Linked DNA regions of Homo sapiens: region 2 is linked to region 1. The links come from fine-mapping of genetic effects on gene expression. A gene starts in region 1. The other region holds a variant in brackets. All regions are shown on one strand. Distances are between the middles of the regions. Region 1 holds the start of PLBD1-AS1 (PLBD1 antisense RNA 1). Region 2 overlaps PLBD1 (phospholipase B domain containing 1).

Region 1 (10,663 bases):
CTACCCAGCTACTAGGGAGGCTGAGGCAGGAGAATCGCTTGAACCCGGGAATCGGAGATTGCAGTGAGCCGAGATAGGACCACTGCATTCCAGCCTGGGCGACAGAGTGAGACTCCATCTCAAAATATATATATATATATAAATAAAAACAAAAAAAGAAGAAGCAGGGGTGAGGGGTGCTTTTCTCTTCCCATCGCCAGAAGACAAGACTCCATAGCATTATGGTTCCCGCACACAGTTTGGCAACCACAGTGAATGCACAGAGTGTACCTGAGAATATAGTAAATACTCATGGGAAACAGTAGTAGCACAATACACTATAATCAATCAACGGAGCTCTCTGGGATACTTTAAATGTTTGAGGGACATGTAGCACCATCTGTAGGATACTGAGCAAATGACTACTATTGCATTGTGTGGCTCTAACTACTTAGTAAAAAGAACTGTTAGGTATTTCTTTTGGTCTGCAGCCCTAAAAATATATTACTGACACTCTACGGGCACTATAAACCAAGAAAGCATGGGAACTTCTGCCTTAGAGAATGACAGAGCCACAAGATGAAAGATAGGTGGGTTCTTAAATTTCTACATGGAGGAAAGCCACTTACTGATTAAGAACTCCCACACTGGACTGGCATACAAGACACCAATAAACTTTTGTTGCATTAATCCAATGAACTTTTGGAGTTTATCTGTCATCATAGCTAGCATTACATTAACTAATACACAGAGTATCTGGAAATCTAAATCCGAGGTCAAGGTAAAGCTGCAGATACCAACAGCAGATGCCTATGCACTACAATTCCTGCAGACCGAATGAGAAAAAAAGCTATATCTTAGTGGAGGCCACTAAGCCAAGAGTATGACTCACAGAGTAAATGTCCCTTATTTAGTACCAAGTCAATACATAAGCCCCCGAAGCTAAGGTCATCCTTAAGGAAAAATGGTAAGGACATAAAGAAGGCAAAGGACACTAAGGATTTGGTCCAAATGAAATTGCGCAACCTTAAATCTGGTATTTAAAAATTTTTACTGGTTGGACTCACACCTGTAATCCCAGCATTTTTGAAGGCCAAGGTGGGAGGATCACTTGAGCCCAGGAATTTGAGACCAGCCTGAGCAACATAGTGAGATCCTGTCTTACAAAAAATTAAAAAAAAAAAAAAATTACCATCAGTGGATGTGTTTGAATGCTAAGTTAATTACACTTTTTTGGAAAAGAAACAAATTTACATTTTGGATATTTCATTCTGGAACTGTAACTGTAAAATTTTCAATCCACCACATACATGTTACAGCAAGGAAAGAAATATAGAGGCCAATAGAGACCACTATCTTTGTTTCTGCAACTGGTCACCTGGCTATAGATAATTATATGTGACTTCTCTTCTCCACCTTTTTTCCATGTTCCCCTTGCTTTGGGCCAGCAACTCAGCTGCTGGGATTCTTTGCCCATTGGGATGAGGAGTCTGAGTCCCCAGTGGTGCTTCCCAGGTGAGATTATGCTCCCAGTCCTTTCATTTTGTTTTGGTTTTGGTTTTTTGAGATGGAATCTCTCTCTGTCATCCAGGCTGGAGTGCAGTGGTGCGATCTCAGCTCACTGCAACCTCTGCCTCCTGGGTTCAACTGATTCTCCTGCATCAGCCTCTCAAGTAGCTGGGATTACAGTCATGAGCCACTATGCCCAGCTAATTTTTGGTATTTTTAGTAGAGACGAGGTTTCACCATGTTGGCCAGGCTAGTCTCGAATTCCTGATCTCAAGTGATCCACCCAACTCGGCCTCCTGAAGTGCTGGGATTACAGGAGTGAGCCACCGCATCCAATGCTCCTACTCCTTTTGATAGTAAGGCAAAATTACCAATACTACAATCCTATTCTTAACCATTCAAACATATTTTTATGTTTTAAGAGGAGCTCAAAAAAGACCAATTGCAATTCAGTAATGCACTTTCAAATTCCAATTCAATAATACTTCCTTATTGTGTCTCCTGGTAGAAACACCTCCACCCTTGGCTCACCAAAAGTTGGCATTCCTGCACCAAAAGTTGGTACAGGAAGAGAATAATGGACGCTGAGTAGCCCCAAACCACACAAGTCCATTATAGAAGTGATGAGAACATTTCGCAGCTGGCATCTTTGGTTCTCCTCATTGCAGCTTTAGTATGTGAATCCAAAAAATCTGAGACAGGTCTCAGTCAATTTAGAAAGTTTATTTTGCCAAAGTTAAGGACACACCAGGGCCACAGCCTCAGGAGGTCCTGACAACATGTGCCTAACGTGGTCGGGGTACAGCTTACTTTTATACATTTTAGGGAGATATGAGACATCAGTCAATACGTGTAAGATGTACATTGGTTCAGTATGGTAAGGCGAGACAACTCAAAGTGGGGTATTCCATGTTAGAAGTAGAAAAGAGACAAAATGTTACATTCTTTTGAATCCTTGATCAGCCTTCCACAGAATACACAACTTAGTCTGGCCCAGGGAGTCTGCATTTTTACATAAACAATACTGCAGAGGAAGCAATCAGATGTGCATTTGTCTCAGGTGAGCCTCAGAGGGATGACTTTTAAGTTCTGTCTTCCCTTTGTCCACAGGGAATTTCCTTGTGGGCAAACTGTGAGGGAGGTATGTAGCTTCTTATCTTTGTAGCTATCTTATTTCAGAATAAAATGAGAGGCAGGTTTGCCTGACATAGTTTCCAGCTTGACTTTTCCCTTGGCTTAGTGATTTTGGGGTCCCAAGATTTATTTTCCTAACTATGTGTGAGTTTTGCAGCTCATTTTCCTCCCAGATATGTAAAACTGGCATAATTTAAAGAAAGCAAGATTTATCATCTAATTCAGTGATTCTCAACTAGGGGGCAATTTTGCCCCCCTACGGGAGCATTTGACAATGTCTGGAGACATTTTCAATGGGGGTGCCACTAGCATCCAGTAGGTAAAGGCCAAGGGGTGTCCAGGACAACCCCCCCACAACAAAGAGTTGTCTGCTCCAAAATTTCAATAGTGCTGATGTGGAGAAGTCCTGATCCAATTAATTTGTTTATATGTATAATTTGCTCCCCACTACTGGAATGCAAGCTCTGCAAGGGCAGGGACTTTGTTTTGTCTACTGCTCTGTGCTTGGAACATGGGAGTCAACGAATATTTGATGACAAATAATAGATGAATGAATGCCTCAAGGTTCACATTAGGCATTTATATGCATCTTACTTCATCAGAACACTTGGCTCCTTGGATCAGAAGGGTTAGTAAGGTGAAGGAGGGTGGTATAGGGCAATATGACTCAAATATTTGGGGTGGCACCACTTCCTTGAACATCCTAATGTGGTTCTCTTCCCATCATAACACAACCAAAATTTTCATTTTTGGTTCATTTTAATTTTCTAACTTGAAGGAAAATGTGCAACTTTTACAATGTCCTCGATGTCTTCATTTTAATTTTTCTTCATTTAAATTTTCTAACGAAGGAAAATGTGCAACTTTTACAATGTCCTCGATGTCTTCGTTTTAATTTTTCTTCATTTTAATTTTCTAACTTGAAGGAAAATGTGCAACTTTTACAATGTCCTCGATGTCTTCATTCATTAAATGCCATTAAACATAATTGTGACTTTAATTTTAATTAAATAAAAATGAGTTGGAGTCTCCCTGTGTGGCACAGGCTTGTCTTGAACTTTTGGGCTCCGGTGATCCTCCCACCTTGGCCTCCCAAAGTGTTGGGATTACAGGCATGAGCCATGGTGCCTGGACCACAAAATTGTGACTTGTGTTTCACAATTTGCACAGAGATTTGATGAACTTTTAGGTTCTTTATCTTTTCTAACAATTACATTTTCCCCGTTATGAAAGGTACTGCTTATTCTCTCTTCTCATCTCTCCTTGACACCTAGGTTAAGCTTAGAAGAAAGGCCAAGAGGAAGAGTGGGGTGCTGAGGTTCCCATCTGAGAGGTGGCTTGTTCCCTCCTTCCCCCTCTCCCACTGCACCTTAAACATAGCTCTAACACAGTAGAATGGCAAGTTCTGTGTACTTGTTTATCTATATGGCTTAGTTCTTTTTTAAAAAAATTATTATTGTTATTATTATTATTTTTTTTTGAGACGAATCTCGCTCTGTCGCCCAGGCTGGAGTAGAGTGGCGCGATCTCGGCTCACTGCAAGCTCCGCCTCCCGGGTTTACGCCATTCTCCTGCGTCAGCCTCCCAAGTAGCTGGACTACAGGCGCCCGCCACCGTGTCCGACTAATTTTTTGTATTTTTAGTAGAGACGGGGTTTCACCGTGTTAGCCAGGATGGCCTCGATATCCTGACCTCGTGATCTGCCCGCCTCGGCCTCCCAAAGTGCTGGGATTACAGGCGTGAGCCACGGCGCCCGGCTGGCTTAGTTCTTTTTGTCTGTGGTGAGGCATGCTCTTAGCTGTCTTTATATCACTGGTATCTGGAGTATAAGATGGGCCCAGCCAATGCTGAGTGAATGAATGAAATGCCTTTTGCCTACTTCACAATGTCACCTAGGGCACCCGGTGCCAACTTCACAATATCACCCAAGGCATAACTTTTGACTACTTCACAATGTCACTTTTAACTGACCCCACACAGAAATGGGGACTCCACAGAAACGTAGGAGTGTGTCTAGTGTCAGCCCCGTCTGAATCACTCTCCTGTGGTGGCTCCAGCCAACGAAGAGGAAGCAAAAAGGATAAAAAATCTGAGCTACAGCGCATGGATTTAGGTTAAACAGCCTGGGAATGAGGGGTACGCTAATCGCTGAGGAAAACGCACCTGTGGAGGCCTCTCCAGAAACAGCAGAGGATCCGAGCTGCGTGTAGGCAGGGCGCGCATGTCACCCTGGCCCGGGCGCCTGGTCCGCTGCTGGAGATAAATGGTCGACCCCGGAGGGAGAGGCTAGTAGGGGTGTTGATGTGAACTGATTCGCCCAAGCCTTGGGCCGCAAAACTGCGAAAGAAAGCGGCAGGCAGCCTCTGCATTTCCCAGAAGTGCAGCTGGGGAACTTTCCCAGACCGGCCCAGGGGTTGCTAGAGGGTCAGACGTAAAGGATCCGCCTTTCCTAGGCGGGGTGGGCCCCAGGCCACCACGTGAAGCGTCCTCGCCCCTCAGAGCCCGGAGCAGGCCGGGCTCAAGAAAGAGGAAAGTTGAGGACGCCCCACCTCGGAGAGGCGGCGCCCCTGAGTAGGCCAGGAGCCTCTCTTGCAACTTCTGCCACCGCGGGCCACCGCGGCCGCCTGATCCCGCAGAGGAAGGTCGCGGCCGTGGAGCGATGACCCGCGGCGGTCCGGGCGGGCGCCCGGGGCTGCCACAGCCGCCACCGCTTCTGCTGCTGCTGCTGCTGCTGCCGCTGTTGTTAGTCACCGCGGAGCCGCCGAAACCTGCAGGTGAGCAGAGCGCGCCCTGGGCGGGGGGCGCCCGGGGAGGCTCCTAGGAGCCTGTTAGCGCCCGTGCCCCGCGTCCGGCCGAGTTGACGTCCAGCGGGCGTCTGGTTCCTGGGTGAACTCAGAGAAACGCGCCTCCGGCCGGCGGTCTCGCTCCAGCCCTGCGGCTGCGCAGCGAGGGCACTTGAGAAGGGCATGGCGAGTGCGTCTGCCAACTTTACAAGTTTTGGCCCGAATTCTTGGCCAACAAATCGGTTCGCTCCTGCGCCGATTCTTGGCCCACAGAGCCTGGGCTGGTCTTAAAAACTCCAGCCAATGGGCATCTAAATATATTTATCCAGATTGTAGGGAGGTATGGTTCCGGCTTGCCATTTGTTTTGTGTTTTAAAAATTTACATTGACTTTGGCTTAAAATCACGATTGCACGATTGTCAGTTTGATACGTGCCTGGCAGTGGGCTTAAGGGCCTTTTGGTTTTGTTGTTGTTGTTGAGACAGAGTCGCTCTCTGTGGGCGACGCTGGAGTGCAATGGTGTGATCTCGGCTCACTGCAACTTCCGCCTCCCGGGTTCAAGCGATTCTCCTCCCTCAGCTTCCCAAGTAGCTGGGATTACAGGCGTCAGCCACCATGCCCAGCTAATTTGTGCATTATTAGTAGAGACGAGGTTTCACCATGTTGGACAGGCTGGTCTCGAACGCCTGACTCGGGCGATCCGCCTGCCTCGGCCTCCCAAAGTGCTGGGATTACAGGCATGAGCCACCGCGCCCGGCAGTTTTTTTTTTTTTTTTTTAATATATAATCCTAAATAGGATTATATTCCCCATTCTGCAGATGAGAAAAGTGAGATTGATCAGAAGTAATTCGCATAAAGATAACACAGCAAATAAGACAGAGTTAGGGGATGCCAGAGGGCATTTTCTTAACTACTTCCCTCTTGGAAAAACAGGTTTTATCTCTACAGGTATTCATGCAAATCTACATCCTTTGCCAAAATTAAATTAAATTAAATTAAAAAGCCTTGGATTTATGATTTCCGTTCCTAAGGAGGTGAAGATTATGAACTGTAACTAAGGGACTTGAAAGAATTCTAAAGTAATAATAAGAGAATTAATTTTGTCTTATTTCATAATCCCCTTTTCTGTGCTGACCTTGTACAAGAGTAGGGTGGGGCTTGGGGGAGGATGCCCCTTCCTAAATATGTGTACTGATTCTTATTACACTACCTTCCATCATCAAGAGCCTTCGTTTTTGAGACTTGCTTAGTTATCACTCTTCAATCTTAAATCTTTCCAGTCTGTGGGATCAGATGTACCCACAGGCTCCTGACTCGTGATTTTCTGTGTTCTTTGCCTAAACTATGGAGGTGGCCTTGGTGTCTACTTCTAGTCTAGGGAGACAGCTCATTCAGAGGTACCTGGGGGAGGCTGGGGAGGGTCCCAAAAGTGGAGGTAGCTTTTGTGTTTGGAATGCTGGCTAAAATCTTTATTCCTTTTCTGTTTTTTTGGACGAGTGAGATTAAGTGTTTTTGTAGGTGGAGGGGGCAGCCTGAGGAGTGAGACAGGCGTTGTTTTTCTGAAGATGGAGCACTATTTATTCAAGAAGGTACCACCTTGTAAGAAACTGCATCTTAAACAGTTCCTCCAACAGGAAGCTGACTCCATGCTTGGAGGTTCTGGAGCCAAGGCAGAAAGTAAGGACATTTCTGAGATGAAGTGATCCTGACAGCACCATGCCCAGCAATCTGGAAAGGATTCTTACTTACCTAGGTGTTAAGGACATCTGGTGATGCCACACTATTTCAGCAGATGAGATCTCTGTTTCCTTTGTCCTACCCACATTAATCTGTTTTCCCTTGAGGCTTTTTGGGTCTTTGTCTTTACCCTTCTACTAGCCTGCGAACAACCAAAGAGTAAAGAACTGGGACTTGCTACCTCTCACTTGTCATGTGTTCTCTGAAGTACCCAGCTCAGTACCCTGAACTTAGTAGGAATTCAGTAAACACTAAAGGGATTGCATGTCCATCCCCTTGGAATGGATTTTATATCCACTCATATGCATCTATCTATCCAAAAACAACTTCTTCAATTTTTAATTTTACTTTTTTTTTTTTTTACTATTATTTCCTATTATTTTTATTTTCCCCCCAGGCTGGGTACAGTGGCGTGATCTCGGCTCACTGCAACCTCCACCTCTTTGGTTCAAGCAATTCTCCTGACTCAGCCTCCCGAGTAGCTGGGATTACAGGCACACACCACCACGCCCAGCTAATTTTTATATTTTTTGTAGAGATGGGATTTCAACAGGTTGGACAGACTAGTCTCGAACTCCTGGCCTCAGGTGATCTGCCCGCCTCAGCCTCCCAAAGTGCAGGGATTACAGGTGTGAGCTACCATGCCCGGACACTTTTAGTTAATTCTTGCATATTCTTCAATTTGTAAAGGTTACTCTATAGTTTTATTATTCCAGAAGTTGACAAATAATTGCACAGTCATTCTAGCCAAATCTTTCAAGCTATGATTTCAGACATATGGTGTTGCGTTTATCTTTCCAGACCAAAAGCCCCATAATTGATTTTAGAAGGTCCTTATATAATTTTTTCTAAGTGGTATGTATAGAGAAGTCAGGTGGTCACTAGAGAAATAAATCATACCTTTATCTGGTTCTGAAAAAGTTTAACATCTTGGAAGTCATTCAGTCTCCATAAGGTGATTTGGCAGACCTATGATTGGAGTCAGTTTCAGTTGATCCTTTAACTCTGCAGACATTCTTTTAGGGTTGGCTGCTGAGAGACTCATAATATGGTATGTATATTGGTAAAACTGGTTCAGAATCTGGCCCTCGGCCTTGCAGGGCTAGACTCCAGAAATTCAGTCTTTCTACTGCTCCATATCTGATCACAGCTAAGAAAGCTGATTCACCCTGATATACACCCAAGTCTATTCATCAGACTTAGCATAATTTTTAGTTAGAAATATAACTGTCAGGCAGACTGGATATTTGTGAGGTCTGCTCTAGGCACTTTCTCACTGTAATCAAACCACATGGGGGTAGATAACATCACAGATTGTCAGGCTGGAGGCCTGATTTGTCTGTCTCCTGGTAGGCATCATACACTTGAGTCAGCCGAGAGAGTGCCCCTCCACTGCATGGTGCTTGCCTAGCATTGCTGGTCCCTGATTTTGGGACACTGCCTTTTCCACATTGCCATGGCTTACCAGTGTCCACTTGAGAATAACAGTTAATACCTTTATCTGGTTGTCAAAAAGTTTAATATCCTGGAACATTCAGTCTCCATAAGCTGATTTGGCAGACCTATGACTGGGGTCAATTTCAGTTGCTCCTTTAACTCTGCAGACATTCTTATTTATTCATTTATTTGGAGATAGGGCCTTGCTCTGTCACCCAGGCTGGAGTACAATGGTACGATCATAGCTCATTGCAGCCTCAGAGTAGATGGGACTACAGGTGCACACCACCACACTTGGCTAATTAAAAAAAAAAATTATTTGTAGAGATAGAGTCTCACTATGTTACCCAGATTGATCTCAAACTCTTGCTCGCAAGTGATCCTCCCACAGGTTCATTTCCCAAAGCCCTGGGGTTCAGGCGACCGCCACTGCACCTGGTCTCTGAGGACATTCTTATTTCCAAATTCATTCGACATAAGGCCTCACAGTTGCTCAGTATGTTCATTCTTTACACGGAAGTCCTTCATTCTTGGAAGTATAGTATTAGAGAGGTAACACAGAATTCCAGCAAGAGGAAATCCTTTGGAACCCTAATGCCTGTGTTTGAAGCCTGACTCCAACACTTGCCATGTGACCTTTAGTCAGTTATTTTCTCTATATGTACTTTGGTTTCCTCAACTGGAAGATGGGTATTATAAGTGTCTCTATCTCATGGGGCTGTTGTGAGAAACACTGTGCCTGACATGCAGTAAGTGCTGTATAATTGAGTGGCCACTGAAGTTGTTTTTCTCTAAAAAGTTATCATGTCTTGATAAGGCAGGCAGGATTGAAGATGATAATCCATGTGCTTTGAAGTAATTTTTTTTTTGTTGTTTTTTTGAGACAGAGTCTTGCTCTGTTGCCCAAGCTGGAGTGCAAAGGCGCGATCTTGGCTCCGTGCAACCTCCGCCTCCCAGGTTCAAGTGATTCTCATGCCTCAGCCTCCCGAGTAACTGGGATACAGGCATGCACCACCATGCCTGGTTGATTTTTGTATTTTTTGTAGAGATGAGGTTCACCATTTTGCCCAGGTTGGTCTCAAACTCCTGGCCTCAAGTGCATCGCCTGCCCTGGCCTCCCGAAGTGCTGAGATTACAGGTGTGAGCCATCGTGCCCAGTCCCAACTTGAACATTTTCTTGTGCTCTCCCTTTATCAACTTGTTTGCATAATGTACACAAGATAAATTCCAGAACAAAGTCTGAAGGAAGTGCCCACTTATCTTCATTATTAAACTTTGTTTCCTGGTCCTTCTGAAAACATAAATTTGGTAGCAAAGATAAAAATCTTTAGAAGAATATTTAAAAGGATCCTCCTTCAGTGTTTACATTGAAGTAAAACAATTTTTTTAAAAAAAATTCATGGTGGCTTATTTTTATAATATATATGCTAAGAAACATATGAACTTTGTCTTGAGTGTTGACATGCAGAAAAGAAATTTTTGTTTTCATACTTCTTTAGACATGAATTTTACATTGTCACTTGTTATCCTTTGCTTTTGTTAGATTTCACATTATAAGGCATTAACTATGGAGACAGCAAAATAAAAGAGGTAGTGGTACCCTTCATGGAATAAAACCAAAGGGATTTATTTTCTTCAGCATTTTAAGTAATTTTTATGCATTTAGGTTTTGCCTTTCAAAAAAATGGAATGGAGTCTAGTTTATACAACTTATATGTTACAATCTTTCGAACATCCAGCTTGAAAATGTGACTAGAAAATGTGTTAATAATGTTATTACGGAGCTTCTTTTTACTACTGCAAAACAGGAATTAATGTGGTAAAAAATGAAATAGAGGTAGTGAAATTATGGGGAAATTTTAGCTTAAGACTTGAAACACTGTCTACACAGATAACATAATCATGTTCAGTTACAGTCTTTTTTTTTTTTTTTTTTTTGAGAGGGAGTCTCACTCTGTCACTCAGGCTGGACCGCAGTGCTGCAATCTCAACTCACTGTGACCTCCACCTCCTGGGTTCCAGCGATCCTCCTACCTCAGCCTCCCAGGTAGCTGGGATTACAAGCATGTGCCACCGCACCTGG
Region 2 (10,663 bases), 47 kb after region 1:
ATTGTATTTTAAGTTTGTTGTGCTGGTAGGAACTGCAAATTAATGTTTTTCATTAAATGTAAGGGTTTTTCACCAGTTATAGCTTCACATATTTTTTCCATCCTCTTTTCTCTCTCTTCTCCCTCTGGGACTCCAGTCATTTATCCATCAGATGCTAAACATTTTTGCACAAGTCTTTGGGGCTTTGTAAATTTTATTTAGTTTTCTTTTTCTCTCTGTTCTTCAGATTGGATGATTCCCATTAATCTTCTATCTTCAGGTTTTCTTTGTTTTATTTTTTGTTTATTTTATTTTATTTATTTATTTATTTTGAGATGAAGTTTCACTATTGTTGCCCAGGATGGAGTTCAGTGATGCGATCTCAGTTCACTGCAACCTCCACCTCCCAGGTTCAAGCGATTCTCCTGCCTCAGCCTCCCAAGTAGCTGGGATTATAGGCATGCACCACTACACTGGGCTAATCTTGTATTTTTAGTAGAGATGAAGTTTCACCATGTTGGCCAGGCTGGTTTCCAACTCCTGACCTCAGGTGATCCACCCGCCTTGGCCTCCCAAAGTGCTGGGATTACAGGCGTGAGCCACCATGCCCAGCCACAATCTTCAGGTTTTCTAATTCCTTCTTCTGCCATCTCAAATTTACTGTTGAAGTATACAGTGAGTTTTTCATTTCATTTACTGTACTTTTCAGATCTAGAATTTCAATTTTGTTCTTTCTTTAATTTCTAATTTTATGTTGAGATTCCCTCTCTGGTAACTCTTAAAACCATATTTTCCTGTTTTGTCTTTGTCCGCTAAACCCAATATCAAGACCTACTTGGAAACAGTTTCCAGTGACTTAAGTGTGGGGTCGTACCTTCCTTTTTCTTTTGAGGTGACAAATATAGCAAATACCATGACTTGATCATTACACAATGTATATACATATTTAGTATATTCTTCACCGCAAACATTTATCAGTTCCTTATGGCAAGAACGTTCAAAATCCTCTTTTATAGTTATTTTGAAATATGTAACACAATATTGTTAACTGTAGTGCCTGGTAATTTTTGGTTGAAATGTGGACTTGAAAAATAGCACACCATAGTGTCTCTGAAATGTGTATTTTTGAGAATTATGTTTTATTTTATTTTTAAATGACATATAATTGTACATATTTATAGGGGACAGTGTGATGTTTTGATGCATGTATACATTGTGTAGTGAACAAATCATGGTATTTAGAATATTCATCACTTCAAACATTTATCACTTTCTAATGGTAAGGACATTCAAAAATCTCTCTTCTAGTTATTTAAAATATATAATATAGTATTGTTAACTATAGTAAGCCTACTGTGCAATAGAATACCGCAACTTTCTCCTTCTATCTAACTGTAATTTTGTACCTGTTGATTAAGCCCTTTCCACCTTGCCTACCCTCCCCAGCTGCTGGTAAGCATTGTTCTTCTCTATACTTGTATGAGATCGGCTTTTATAGATTCCACATCTGAGTGAGATTGTGGAGTATTTGTCTTTCTGTGCCTGGCTTATTTCATTTAACATAATGCCCTCAGGGCTCATCCACATTGCTACACATGACATAATTTGATCCTTTTTATGGCTGAATAGTATTCCATTATATGTATATGTATCATATTTTCTTTATCCATTCATCTGTTGATAGCCATTTAGGTTGATTCCATATCTTGACTATTGTGAATAGTGCTGCAATAAGCATGAGAGTGTGGATATCTCTTTAACATACTTATTTCATTTCCTTTGGATAAATACCCAGCAAGGGGTCTAGTTTCATTCCTCTCCATGTAGATACCCAGTTTTCCAAGCACCATTTATCAAAGAGAATTTTTTCCAATGTGTGTTCTTAGTGTCTTTGTCAAAAATCAATTAGCTGTAAGTGTGTGAATTTATTTCTGTATTTTTTATTCTGTCTTATTAGTATATATGTCTATTTTTATGCCAGTACTATGCTGTTTTGGTTATTATAACTTTGTAGTATATTTTGAAGCCAGGTAGTGTGATGTTTCCAGCTTTGTTCTTTTTGCTCAAGATTGCTTTGACTATTTGGGGTCTTTTGAGGTTCCATACACATTTAAAGATTTTTTTCTCTTTCTATGAAGAATGTCATTGGTATTTTGATAGAGATTGCACTGAATCTGTCAATTGCTTTGATTAGTATGGACATTTTTTTAAAAATTCCTCAAATCCGTAAACATGGAATATCTTTCCATTTGTATCCTCTTCATTTCTTATGTCAATATTTTATAGGTTTCATCATAGAGATCTTTCACCCGCTTAGTTAAGTGTTTGTTTTTGTAGCTGTAGTAAATGGAATTGCCTTCTTATTTTTTTCTGATTGTCTGCTATTGTCATATAGAAATGCTATAGATTTTTGTATATTGATTTTATATCCTGCAACTGTACTCAATTTACTTATTAGTTCTAACAGTATTTTGGTGAAGTTTTCAGGGTTTTCCCTGTATAAGATTATGTCATTTGGAAGCAGGGACAGTTTGATTTCTGCCTTTTCAATTTGGATGCTCTTTTTGTCTTTCTCTTGCCTGATTGCTTTGGCTAGAACCTCCAGTATTATGTTAAATAAAAGTGGTGCATTTGTGTCTTGTTCCAGATCTTAGAGGAAAAGCTTTCAACTTTTCCCCATTCAGTATGATGCTAGCTGTGAATTTGTCATATATGGGCTTTATTGTGTTGAGTTACATTTCTTGTATATCTGTTTTGTTGAGAGTGTTTATCATGAGGGGATGTTGAATTTTATTAAATATCTTTTCTAGATCAATAGATTCAACATCCCTTCATGGGTTTGTCCTTGATTCTGTTAATATGATGTATTATGTTTATTGATTTGCATATATTGAACCATCCTTGCATCCCTGGAATGAATCCCATTTATTATGGTGAGTGATTTTTCTTAATGTGCTGTTGAATTCAGTTTTTAAATATTTTTTTGAGGAGTTTTGTATCTAGGTTTATTAGGGATATTGGCCAATAGATTTATTTATTTGTTGTGTCCTTATCAGGTTTTGGAATCGGGGTGATGCTGGTCTCATAGAAAGATGTTGGAAGTATTCCCTCCTCTTCATGTCTTTTGAATAGTTTTCAAAGGATTTGTATTAGTTTTTCTTTAATGTTTGGTAGAACTCATCAGTGAGGCCATTGGGTCTTCGGCTTTTCTTTTCTGGAAGACTTTTTATTACTAATTCAATCTCATTACTTGTTATTGGTCTGTTCAAATTTTCTATTTCTTCATGATTCAATTTTCGTTAAGTTTTATGTGCCCAGGAATTTATCCATTTCTTCTAAGTTTTCATATTTGTTGGCATAGAGTTCTCTATATCTCTCTCAAAACTTAAGAAGTTTCTGCTATTATTTTGTGAAGCTTTCTGTGCCCTTCTCCATCTCTTCTCCCTCTCAAGTTTCTATAGTGTGAAAATGTGTTCACTTAATGGTGTCTCATAGGTCTTGTAGGCTTTCTTCACTCTTCAAGCAAAGAGCTGTCTTCAGTTCAGAAATTCTTTATTCTGCTTGGTGTAGTCTGCTGTTGGAACTTTCCATTATATTTTTTATTTCATTCATTAAAGTCTTCAGCTCCAAGAGTTTTTTTTTAATGATATCTCTGTTGAATTCTTTATTCATATCATGATTTGCTTTTCTGATTTTATTGAATTGCCTATCTATATTATCTTGAATCTCATTGATTTTCCTTAAGATCATATTTTTAAATTTTTTATGCAATTAGTAAATTGCCATTTCTTTAAGGTCAGTTATGGGAGAGTTATTGTGTTTTTTTGGTGGTATCATGTTTTCTTGCTTTTTCATATTTCTTGTGTCCCTGCACTGATGTCTGGGCATCTGATAGAATGGATGCCTCTTCCAGTTGTATAGAGTTGTTATCATAGGAAAAGATTTTTGCCTGCAGATGTGTCCTAAGGTGTCGGTTGTGGAGGATGCATTGGCTGTGGTTCCAGGTGGATGCAGTAGTGTAGTCACCATGCAGTTTTTTCAGCTGTAGTCAATGTTAGCAATTTCTATGGATGCCTCAGTGGCATCCTAGCCTGGAGGAGTTTGTATGGCAGCTCTGTCAAATCATATGCATGGCTTTTCTGCTTGTGGCAAGGGTGCCAGTTTGTTTCATGCGCCACGGGTGCACAAGGCCTACTCCAATAGGATTAGACACAGTCTGTCCTCTGGGGGCAGGAGTGCCAGGCTGTTACACACACCGCAAGTGCATAGGGACTGCTCCTTCAGGGTAAGGTGTGGCCTTCCTGCTGGGTAGGATCATCTGTTCCTTGGGCGTCAGGACACCACATGGGCTCAGGCACCAAGGTTATGGCTGTTTCACTGGGCCTATGCTCTGAGTAATTGAGGTTGAGGTGCTGTGCCACAGGGATGGGGAAGATGGAGTGCATCGTAGGCAGCTTATTCCTGGTGGATAGGAAACAGTAGCTGCTCAACTGGTGAGTGGTGTGCTACTGTTTACAAGCACAGTGTACTTGCAGCAGAGCCTCAGGATGGGGAGAAACAAACAGTGGTTACTGGCCCTCCAGAGCACAGTGTACTATAGTAGTGGCACCGGTCTCAAGATAGTGCTGTACATCAGCAGCTTAGATCACAGAGGAGAAGGAGGCACAATGTGGGCTCATTCTTTGGAGTAATACAGCCATGTGAATGCCAGGCAGCTCCCTAGAATGGGTTCATGACTTGTGAAAACTGCAGAATTCTCAAGCAGCAAAGACTGTAGGTGTTTGCATCTTTAATGGAGATTGCTGGGAGTTCTCCTGCTCACGTTTTCTCCGTAGGGAGACTGCCTCCTGGTTTCATACCGACCTTGACTGGGAAGACGAAGTGGCAAAGGCAGAATGTTTCATTCTCTTTTTTATGCAGCCATCCCAAGTCTCCATGCTCCACTGGGTCTCTGCCCCTCCCTTATTGTACTCCTTCGGAACACTTTAGTGTTCTCCTTTGGATACTCTAGTCAAAATGTAGTTGTTTATTCATCATTTTGGTTCCTTTTTTTTTGTAGGGAAATGAATGTTAGGCACCTCTAGTCAGACATCTTGCTGAAGTCACTTGTTTTACTTTTTTTGTTGTTGTTTTTAACAGGCAATTACCTTGCTTGCACTCAAACTTCAACATATGTCACCTGCACAGTGTGCAGCAACCAATGTCCTTCCTCAACACTGCTGCTTCAACCTGGTCTTCTGGAGGTTGCTCCTGCATCTGTGTAATTTAGCAGTCAGTGAAAGATGTTGGCAGCTCAAATTCATATTATAGAGCTAACTCTCTTTGTGATTTCCTTGATCCTAAGGTTTCCCCTATATTCCCATTTGCTTTTCCAGCTCTTACCTTTGTCCTCTGAGAGCCTGAGGAATTTGAGCTGCATATGAGTTGGGAACCCTGGCAGTGTAAGTTGCAGCAAACTCACCTATCTCAGTTCTAGAACATTTCTGTCTTACAAGGGAAAACCCTTCTCATTTCTTTCTGTTTTTACCCTGGGCTCCCTGGCATTTCCCACATTCATGCACAGTTAGTGGTCAGTCAGGGAACAGGACACAGTTCATATTCAGATTTTGGATCTCTGCTCTTCTTGTGGTTCTCTTGCTCCCAAAATTTTCCTCTTAAATTCTCAGCTGTTCTGCAATACTAGACTTTGATCTCACCATCTCAAGCCAGAATGGCTCTAGTTTTCCATAACTAGAGTTGGGTATGGGCTATATATTAGTTTGCTAAGGCTGCCATGACAAAGACTGGGTGGCTTAAACAACAGAAATTAATTATTCTCACAGTTCTAGAAGCTGAGAGTCCAAGATCAAGATATTGACAGGTTTGGTTTATCTCTTTGGCCTACAGATGGCCACCCTCTCACTGTGTCCTCACATGGCCTTTTCTCTGTGTGGGCTATACCTGGCATCACTTCCTCCT[T/C]TTTTTTTTTTTTTTTTTAAGATGATGTCTCACTCTGTCATCCAGGCTGGAGTGCAGTGGTGCGATCTCAGCTCACCACAACCTCTGCCTCCCAGGTTCATGTGATTCTCCTGCCTCAGCCTCCCAAGTAGCTGGGACTACAGGTGCATGCCACCACACCCGGCTAATTTTTTGTATTTTTAGTGGAGACAGGGTTTCGCCCTGTTAGCCAGGTGGTCTCGATCTCCTTACCTCATGATCCACCTGCCTCGGCCTCCCAAAGTGCTGGGATTACAGGCATGAGCCACCACGCCCGGCTCACTTCCTCTTCTTATAAGGACACCGGTCATGTTGAATTAGAGTTTGCCCATATGACCTCAGTTGACCTTAATTACCTTTTTAATGCTCTGTATCCAAATATAGTCATATTTTCAGGTACTAGGGGTTAAGACTTCAACATATGAATTTTGAGGAAACAGAATTCAGTCCATATCACGGGTTTAGGAATACACACAGGCAAGGAAGCCTCATACTCCATCTTAACCAATGCTGTACTAATGTTCTGTTTCTCTCTGCCTTTGGTCATTCCTAGTATCTTCAGATCATTGCTTTAAATAATTTTATACAGTTTTATAATTATTATTTGTGGGAAAATCACTCAATTTTATCATGCTGCTATTATTGGAATACTCACCCTTGATACGAGCATTTTTTTTTTGGCTGGGTAATACATAATACCCTAGTGCTTTTCATATTAACAAAGAGTAGCACAAGAGCTCCTTTTAGAAGGTTTTACTAACCTTCAGGCCAAGTAAGTTATCTCTCCTTTGAGCTTCCTAGGTACCCTGTGCATAATTTCTTCAAAGCCCATATTCTGTATTCATGTCTGTGTCCCAGGATGAGCACAGAGCCTTGCATATTATAATCATTGAATAAATATTTATGGAAGGAAGGAGAAAAGAAGGAAGGAAGAAAGAAGGATTAGAGGGAAAACAGTAAGGAGATAGATTATGTCCACTTTGATGTGGACATGGTAGGAACTGTAGGAAAGAAAGACGGGCAATAAAACAAGGAGGAGGTGGGGGCTGCCTAAGAGATCACAGTTCTTATTGTAACTTGCTTTCTATTCATCCTGCCCTCCCTTTCATACCCTAGATTTGAGAACAGGAGTCTAAGATGTTCAGGAATTGTAAGCAAGGGACTTCAGATGCAAAACCTATGTGTTCAGCACAGGACTTGTTACTTGAAGCAAATCCTTTGTGATAAATAACATGAATGGGACCTGACTAGTTTTATGGGAATTAGGCAGAATTTAAGTTTTAAATAAATTACTATAAGCTTGTTTGTGTTCAACTAGTTATTAAATAGAAAGGAAAACAAAAAACCTGAATATGTGTTTAGCCCCTACCATGTACCTGGCTCTGTCCCTGACACTGTGCACATTTTGTTTTTGTCTGTTTTGGGGGTTTTGTTTTCTGAGACAGAATCTCACTCTGTTACCCAGGATGGAGTGCAGTGGTGTGATCTCAGCTCACTGCAACCTCCGCCTCCCAGGTTCAAGTGATTCTCGTGCCTCAGCCTTCCAAGTAGCTGGGATTACAGGTGTGTGTGACCACGCCCGGCTAATTTTTGTATTTTTAGTAGAGACGCGGTTTCACCATGTTGGCCAGGCTGGTCTCGAACTCCTGGCCTCAAGTGATCCGCCTGCCTCAGCCTCCCAAAGTGCTGGAATTACAGGCGTGAGCCACTGTGCCAGGCCAACATTTTGTTTTTATTATGTCATTTAATGTTCATAAAAACCTAACAAGAAGGGTATTTTTAAAATCAGTTGTCTACCATTAACTTCTAGTATTGTATTTTCTTAACAAGCATACAAAACATCAAACTTCTCTTTAGACAAAGTGCAGTTCTTTGACATCCTTTACACAAAACAGTCTGAGCCTGTGGCATGTTAATGCAGTCGAGAGGCAAAGCATACTGACTTTTACAAATTCTGCCTTCCATAAAAAGCCTCAAGGAGGGTATTTTGTCTGCATTTTTAAAATAAACAGTTCAGAGAAGTTAAATAGTCAAACAGGTCAAGGTCACACAATTCAGTGGTTGAGGACTGGGTGCAAAGGCAATATATCTAACTATAAATATCCATTTCTTTTTTTTTTTAGAAATGATGCAGTTTGGATTTAAATTAAATGGCTAAAACTGAAAGAGCCGGCTGGGTGTGGTGGCTCACACCTGTAATCCCAGCACTTTAAGAGGCCAAGGCAGGAGGAGCGCTTGAGCCCAGAAGTTTGAGACCAGGCTGTGCAACATAGCAAGACCCCCGTCTCTACAAAAAATTAAAAAATTTAGCCAGGTGTGGTGGTGCATGCCTGTAGCCCCAGCTACTCAGGAGGCCTGGTGGGAGGATCCTTTGATCCTGGGGGTTTGAAGCTGCCTTGAGCCTTGATCACGCCACGGCACTCCAGCCTGGGCGACAGAGCATGGCCTGTCTCAAAACACAAACACAAACAAAAAACTAAAAGAGCAGTGAACTCAAAGGATTTCCTGCCATGCCAGGTGGGTGGAGCTTCTATGTGGGAATAAAAGATGGAACCTATTTAAAGGACTTTTTTTTTGTTTGAGATGGCGTCTCACTCTGTCGCCCATGCTGGAGTGGAATGGCGTGATCTCAGCTCACTGCAACCTCTGCCTCCCAGGTTCAAGCGATTCTTGTGTCTCAGCCTCCCAAGTAGCTGGGACCACAGGCGTATGCCACCATGCCCTGCTAATTTTTGTATTTTTAGTAGAGACAGGGTTTCTCCATGCTGGCCAGGCTAATCTCGAACTCCTGAACTCAGGTGATCCGCCCTCCTCTGCCTGCCAAAGTACTGGGATTACAGGCATAAGCCACCTTGCCTGGCCTCAAAGGACTTTTAATTGAGGATCCCAGTAATGATGATCCCCATAAGGCTGAGGCTTCAAGCTTAATGATCTATAAGTGAGGCTTTCTGGGATGCATTTAGTGTGTTTCCCCAAGCGTGTGTGTGTTCCTACTTCTCATTATATACAGGTATGCTATCACCTCCCCCATACATGTATACATACCTCTTAAACTTAGATGTTCCCCAATTTTTCCTATGGAGCTTGCTAAAAATGCAGTGTCATCCATAGAAATTCATATTTCATTGATCTGGGCTGGGACATTTGTAACAAGCACCCTAGACCATCCTAGCATACTGAATCCATAGTCCATCCTGTTTGTGAGACTATGGCAGCCCTTGTGGTCTAAGCAGCAAAATCTTTGCTTAGCCTTTTTTGTTGTTGTTGTTTGTTTGTTTTTGTTTTTGTTTGAGATGGAGTGTCGCTCTGTCACCGAGGCTAGAGTGCAATGGCGCGATCTCGGCTCACTGCAGCCTCCGCCTCCTGGGTTCAAGCGAATCCCCTACCTCAGCCTCCTGAGTAACTGGGATTACAGGCGCGCGCCACCGTGCCCAGCTAATTTTTGTATTTTTAGTAGAGACGGGGTTTCACCATGTTGGTCAGGCTGGTCTCAAACTCCTGACCTTGTGATCCACCTGCCTCAGCCTCCCAAAGTGCTGGGATTACAGGCGTGAGCCACCGTGCCCGGCCTTGTTTTTTTTTGAGATGGAGTCTCGCTCTGTTGCCCAGGCTGGAGTGCAGTGGCCAATTCAACCTCTGCCTCCTGGGTTCAGGCAATTCTTGTGCCTCAGCCTCCCAAGTAGCTGGGACTACACCACGCCCGGCTAATTTTTTTTTTTTTGTATTTTTAGTAGAGATGGGGTTTCACCATGTTGGTCAGGCTGGTCTCAAACTCCTGACCTCAAATGATTCACCACCCACCTCGGTCTCCCAAAGTGCTGGGATTACAGGCATGAGCCAGCTTGGCCTTTTTAAATATTAAGTGCATGTACTTGAAAGTAGGTACACATGAAGATAAAAGAATAGGCTCCAGGAAAATTTAAGTCAAGTCTTCATAATCTATAAAATTGCCTATTTAATAAATATATGTTGTAAACATTTTTAATGTTCTGTAATTACTGTTATTAATGTCATGTTACCTCTTTGATCTAGGTACTTTGGTCATAAAGCTGAAGTATATAAAAACAATCTATATTTAGTACAGACCAAAATTCATGTCCTTTGCTTTTAAAAGGTAGAACCAAGAAAAAAAAAGCAATAGCAGAATACGGGCACGTATTCTAAAGAATTATAAATGGATTTTGCAGCACTTAATTTCTGTTTTTTTTTTAAGTACCTTTCTTTGATTCTTTGTCTCCTCATTGGTACCATCCCAGAACACTGATGTCTTCTGCCAGATCAGACCTGTCTTGATCATCTTCCCCACCTAAATCAGGATGTGTCCTCCCTTCTACCTTTCCAGAAATCCCACCTTAGTTTTCATACTTTTCTTGATTAACTGGTCATAAGATGATTTCCCTCAACTCCACCCTGTCTCAACATGCAACTCCCCATGAGTCAATCTTCATAATTGTTTCTAATGTGTTTGTTCCATGGTGTGTGTTGAGTAACTGTTGTTGCCATTTGCATGACTACATAGTGGTTACTGTTTATTTCTGCAGTTTGGTGTTTTTTTTAAGTCTTGAAATAGGATTTATTAACCGGAAGTGTTTCTTTTTATTTCTTAATTAAATTCAGTGAGAAGCTTATCATGAAATGTTATTCTTAGGCTGGCATTCATAAAACACTGGAGTGTTTCATTTTCTCCTGATCTCAATCTGCCTTCCAA

The links. PIP is the estimated chance that this variant, and not a neighbour inherited with it, causes the effect.
Region 2: its variant is the best candidate, but not a certain one, in a credible set for the expression of PLBD1-AS1 in whole blood (TOPMed, PIP 0.76).

Annotation. Positions count from the first base shown.
Region 1 is chr12:14,562,315-14,572,977 of GRCh38, reverse strand. PLBD1-AS1 (PLBD1 antisense RNA 1) reads right to left here and starts at 5,246. Exons shown (of 6, transcript NR_120465.1): 1 at 5,172-5,246; 2 at 4,786-4,959. It overlaps PLBD1 (phospholipase B domain containing 1), which reads left to right and starts at 5,095. Exons shown (of 11, transcript NM_024829.6): 1 at 5,095-5,396. The coding sequence starts at 5,282. RefSeq lists silencers at 5,225-5,334, 6,074-6,250 and an enhancer at 5,148-5,829.
Region 2 is chr12:14,514,911-14,525,573 of GRCh38, reverse strand. The region is part of intron 6 of PLBD1 (phospholipase B domain containing 1); the gene reads left to right. Among named protein-coding and RNA genes, the nearest start is that of PLBD1-AS2, 9.9 kb to the left of the region's middle. The variant T/C (reference allele first, on the strand shown) is at 5,938.